Regions from separate parts of the Homo sapiens genome. Here region 2 is linked to region 1. A link means that fine-mapping ties the variant in region 1 to the expression of a gene that starts in the linked region. Tissue or cell type: whole blood. Region 1 holds a variant in brackets; the other region holds the start of a gene. All regions are shown on one strand. Distances are from middle to middle.

Evidence for each region. PIP is the estimated chance that this variant, and not a neighbour inherited with it, causes the effect.
Region 2: it holds the start of DHRS12, and the variant in region 1 is fine-mapped to the expression of DHRS12 in whole blood (TOPMed, PIP above 0.99).

What each region holds. Positions count from the first base shown.
Region 1 is chr13:51,917,612-51,920,371 of GRCh38, forward strand. It overlaps a transcript of TMEM272 not described here. Among named protein-coding and RNA genes, the nearest start is that of CCDC70, 57 kb to the left of the region's middle. The variant C/T (reference allele first, on the strand shown) is at 1,485.
Region 2 is chr13:51,802,475-51,805,103 of GRCh38, forward strand. DHRS12 (dehydrogenase/reductase 12) reads right to left here and starts at 1,689. Exons shown (of 9, transcript NM_001377533.1): 1 at 1,580-1,689. LOC107984561 (a long non-coding RNA gene) reads left to right here and starts at 1,362. Exons shown (of 2, transcript XR_007063805.1): 1 at 1,362-2,327. RefSeq lists enhancers at 5-54, 2,440-2,569 and a silencer at 1,250-1,889.

The DNA.
Region 1 (2,760 bases):
CAGTGTTCCTCAGGGCTGTGTAGAAGGGCTCTGCGCTAAAAGCAATTCTGCTAATTACTAAGTATGTGTTGGGCAAGTTAAGTTACTTAACATCTCTGAGTTCACGTTTCTGAGCTGCAAAATGCATTGATGGGGCTTAAACGAGATGACAAAAGTGCCTGCAGCAGCTACCCGATAAATCACAATATCATCACAATTCTGGGTTGACCCTGGTCTCTGCCCCAGGGAGTTCCGAATTCTCACGTCCCAAACTGCAAACTCAGTGTCCTCCAAGAATGTCGCCCTTCTCCTCCCACCTCTAGATGTTTCAGTAACTTCTTTCCTGTTTATTGAGAGATTCATCCCAGTGTCCTCTCATTCCCTTCTGTCCCTCTGGGAATTTCTTCCATCAGTTTTGCTTCCTTTTTCATACCTGTCACCTGAGCTTCCAAATATCGATCTCTCTCCATCCTAAAAATATTTCTGTGCCTCATCCCTGCATGCTCAAAGGTGATCTTCCTTCTCCTCTTTACCATCACAGTTCTCAAAATAATGATTGGCATTTCTTGAATGTTTCTCTCGAAGGCCCTCTGTGAACTCCTAGTGCCAATTCCAGCAATGCCTTGGGGGTCAGCACTTCCTCCTGCCACCTCTGCACCTTCAGCTGTTCTCCATCCTGGAACTTTCCTGACAGCCCCCTGGTCCTCATCTCAAGTCATCTGTAACATTTAATGTGACTGACACTTCCCGCTTTAAAAATCTTTCTCAGTGTCTGGATATTTTAGAATTGCACAAGGCAGTATGAAGGGGTGGAAAGACATGGCATCCGGGATTTACTTTAAATTACTTCAGCAAATAAAAAAGAGAAAAAGAAAGAAAAGGAGGAATAGAAGAAGCAAAAATGATATGGCAAAACCTTGACAATTATTTAATTCAAGATGTTCAGGGTGGGTATATGGGGATTCACTCTTAGTCTCTGTATTTCTACATACAAAGCAATTGACATTTTCCATGTAATTTTTAAAACTATTTTTATTTATTTAGTTAGTCTTTGGAACAACGTCTTGCTCTGTCATCCAGGCTGGAGCACAGTGGTGCAATCACAGCTCACTGAAGCCTGAACCTCCCCAGCTCAAGTATCCTCCCACCTCAGCCTCCCAAGTAGCTGGGACCACAGGGACACGTCACCATGCCTGGCTAATTTTTGAAATTCTTTTTTTTTTTTTTTTTTTTTTTTTGTAGAGACAGGGTTTTGCCATGTTGCCCAGGCTGGTCTCGAACTCTTGAGTTCAAGTGATCCACTCACCTTGGCCTCCCAAAGTGCCAGGATTACAGGCATGAGCCACCATGACCGGCCCCATAATTAGAAATTATTTTTCTTTCCTGGACCTCCTTATGACACATCTCTCCTGGCTCTGCTCCTTTCTGAAACCTCCTATTCCCATCTTTTCCTTCTCTTTCTCTACCTGCTTTGTGAAAAATAAGTGCTTCCCAAGGCCCTTGCT[C/T]GCCTCTGTGTGAAGTGCCAGTGGCCAGTGCCGAGGCCCAGGTGAAACTCCCCAGCCCACTGATTCACCTGAGCCTGCTGTGAAGGTGAGCCAATGCTATAGCTTTAGTCCTGCCCTCTCTACAAACACCAGACCCACGTGTATTTTTAAAAATTTACACATATTTTAAATATGTATATAAATACAGAGAATAAGAAGACAAAATCCCTGACCCACTACCCAGATTTAACCAGTGCTGACATTTTGGTACATTTGCTTCATAGTTTTAGAAATAACAAGTTACAAATATAGCTGAAGGCCCCGACACACCTCTCCCAGACCCCATTCTCTTCTCTTGCTCCCCATAGGAAACCACCGATCTGAACTTGGTATATAGCCCCAGACCATGTTTGTACTTTGACCACAGAGACTGGTGTCTAGAACAATACATAAAATTATTTTTTTTAATCTTCATGACTCTTTAAGTATCTGTAATTTTTTTCACTCAACACTGTGTTTTCCCCATATTGATACACACAGATCCTGTTGGTTCATTCTGAATGCTGCAGAGTAAATACTTTCTCTTATGACACACATCGCAAGTTGTCTGTCCACTTCCCTAAGCAGACGTCTCGGCTGTGTCCCGAGCAAACGGTGCCATGGTGACCTGCCTTTGCAGGTCTCCTGCTGCGCACCTGCGTGAGCATGTCGCTCTCCTCACCTGCCACCGTCCCTGTGACATTTTCTTGTGCTTGTTTGCTTTTCTGACTCCCCCACTCAAATGCAAGCAAAGAAAGTGAGTACTTTCATCTCTATGCTATTAATGCATCATGCCTAGCTCATAGTGGATTAATATGAAGGAGAAAAGGAAGGAAGGAAAGGAAGAAGGAAGGAAGGAAAGGAGGGAGGGAGGCTTTCTATCACCAGGCTCAGGAGCTAAGGACTAGGCAATACGTGGAATTATTTTGTGGAAGTCCAGGTATGACGTTGCAGTGAGGAATCCAAGAGGCATTTTAATAGCAATGTATATGCCTGCAACCAAAGAACATACTCTCAGCAAGCGTTTTACCTCTCAGCAGAAAGATGTGAGCTGCTGCCTGTATTTTGCGCTGCTGCCTGTATTTTGCACTGCTCCTGAAACGGGTCTGATAACAGCTAGTTATAGAATATTTGGTGTCATTTTCCAGATGAAGGGAACTACATGGTCTCAAGCCAGCTAAGACTTGACAGAGAAAAGATAAGACTTTGACAGTAATTCAGCCAACGTGTATTTCCACTCCTGCTCTGTGCCAGGCAG
Region 2 (2,629 bases), 120 kb before region 1:
CAGGTATCTGTGTCTCCCCACACCCTCAATTTACCCAAATATGAAATTTGCTTAGGACCCATCCACACTTGCCCAGGGTTTAGGAGTCTGTTTAAAACTGCCCCAGGGAATTATTAGGTTCAGCAAAGTTTAGGAAACAGTGATTAGATCCTCCTGCCTTAGGAGCCCAATATAGGGAGGCTTTATAAAAATCCTTGTGCCAAGAGAAACGTTGTAAACTCTAACTCCGCGCTCTCACACTGAAGTCAAAACAAGGTTGTTGTTTTTCTCTCCTATTCACTAAATCCACAACAGCAGGAAAACCCATCTAACTTTGCCAACTGCCTTCCCCTCCCCTCCCTTCCCCCACCAATCTGTGGTGGATTGGGCCCCTTGGCCTCACTTCTACCTTCCCTCAAGGTGGGGAAATCAGAGCGAAAGAGTCCTGGGAGAAATTTTTACAGTCTGCTTTCCTTGGGGCCCACCCCTGGTTGGAAACTGACTTAAGCTTTCATGCTGTGTAATGTGGAAAGATCCAGCAATTAATGGTCATTGCCAGAGGACACCCCTTTGAAAGAAAGAGGCTGCCACTGTATTCCCCTAAAAACTGTGGGACAGGGCTCACGACTACACTCCCCACCATTCTCTGCAGCAGGGGCTCCTGAGACAGAGCTGAACCTTCTCCAAAACGATGTGGGGTGAAGAGCAGGGAGTTGCAACTCCTACCTCCCCTAGGAGTGCTGGCCAGGTTGCCGTGGGAACTGATAAAGCCCCAGTGCAGGGAGAAGCCTCTCAGAGGTGAGAATCACCTGGGGCATTTGGATGAAATGCCAGTCCAGGCCCCTGTGCAGATCCACTAAATCAGAATCTGTAGGGATGGGGCCTGAAAACTGGGTACTTTTAATTCTCGCCCAGTGATTCTGATGTGCAGACAGGGTTGAGAACCAGCGGTTAGCCTAATCAATTCTAAGAGAAAACCTCCATCTCTCCTCCGTCACAGGAACCTGTCACCTCTTAAAACCACAATGAGGTGGAGAGCCAACTAGGGCACACTGAGCGTGGTCACGGGGCGACGAAACCACCACGCACCGTTCCCCAGAAGCACACACTGGCTGGAAAGTTCCAGCTGGAGCCAAAGGTCGCAGTCCAGGTGCTGCATCTTTTTAAAGGAAACACACCCAAAGGCACTAGGACAGAGCCTTAGCTAGCGATTTAGATCCAGCCCTATCTGACGCCGCCAGCAGCACCACGAAGACACTTCCACGAGCACACCCAGCGGGGCGCCGAGGTGCCGCCCAAGAGGCTCCTTGGCGCCGGGGCCGCCTGACGTCAGTGGGACGGCCCTGGGCTTGGGCGCGCCACAGCCCCGCCCCTCGGGCGCCAGTCTCGGTCGCGGGCATTGAGCGGCTGGAGTCTGGCGACTGCCCCACGCCCAGCCGTGGGTCGCTAGACGGCGGGCGCACCCGTCGTTCTGGACACGCTTAGTCGGCCCAGCGAGAGGGCGAAGGAGCCGCGGGCGCGTCCCCGCCAACCCTGCTCGCCCGCGCCGAGGCGGGCCACGTGACAGCCCGGGGCCCCGCGCCCCGCCGCGCCGCCTTACTTGGTGTACTCGCGCAGCCCCTTGGCGAACCACACGACGCTGCGGTACAGGGACATGCCGGGAGCGCCCCACGCCTAGCCCCACCGCGCTCCCGGCGCGGCCTCCGCCCTGGTCCCGCCCCCCGGGAGTCGCCCGCCCTGACATCATCCCGGTTATGTAAGAGCCGCGGCTTCCGGTTCCTTGCTCCACCGGTAAGGCAAGGGGTCTCGGGGCCGGCCGGTCGACTCCGCCCCAGCCTCAGAGGGTGGAGTGAGGGCGGACCGGCCCTGGTGGGGGCCGCAGTCGAGGTCCGCAGTCTCCTCGGGGTCGAAATCGGGCATCAGCGCCGTTTAGAGAACACCGTCCTGCTGGGCATGGCCGGGATGCGAAGATGGCCCTGCAACGCACCTCCTAGAATTTGGTTACCTAGAAAACCATGTGGAATAAAACGACGAGGCTTATGATATTTAAAAGACTTCTGCATCGAATTGGTGTTATCATAAGGGTTATTTTAATAACTGGCATTCTCTAAGTTTCTACACGTGTTGGGGGATGCAGTGCCGTGCCACATTTCCCGTCTCCAGCAAGCGCAGTCAGATTGGCGACATCGCAGGCAAGAGGCAGGGCTGGGGCTCCCACCCGAGAAGTAATTGTCTCCAAAGTTGGACTTTTGCCACTGGTTCTGCGACTTCATGCAATGCCAGGGAGAGCCCCTTGATTTCCCCCAAATCCTCATCAGCCTCTTTCCACCCAAGCCCAGATGAACAGTGTGAGTAAAAAAGAGTGTGGTTGCTGCGTGAACCCAGATCTCAGACTAGTCATCCAGCCCCATTATGTAGGACTCAGACACCCCTGTCCACATCTAACCTCCAGCCCTAACGCCACATTAGAAATGGGGGTCTTACTGCTGCTGTCACTCCTAGTCACCCTGTTAAATTCTATACCGGTTTACCCAAGTCGCCCAGAGACTGGGCCCCACTTACATAAGCTGAAGAGACCAGCTGCTTTAATAGCCTCATTACCTAGGATATAGGATCACTGTCCAACCTCACTCCACAGTGGGCAAGTTTT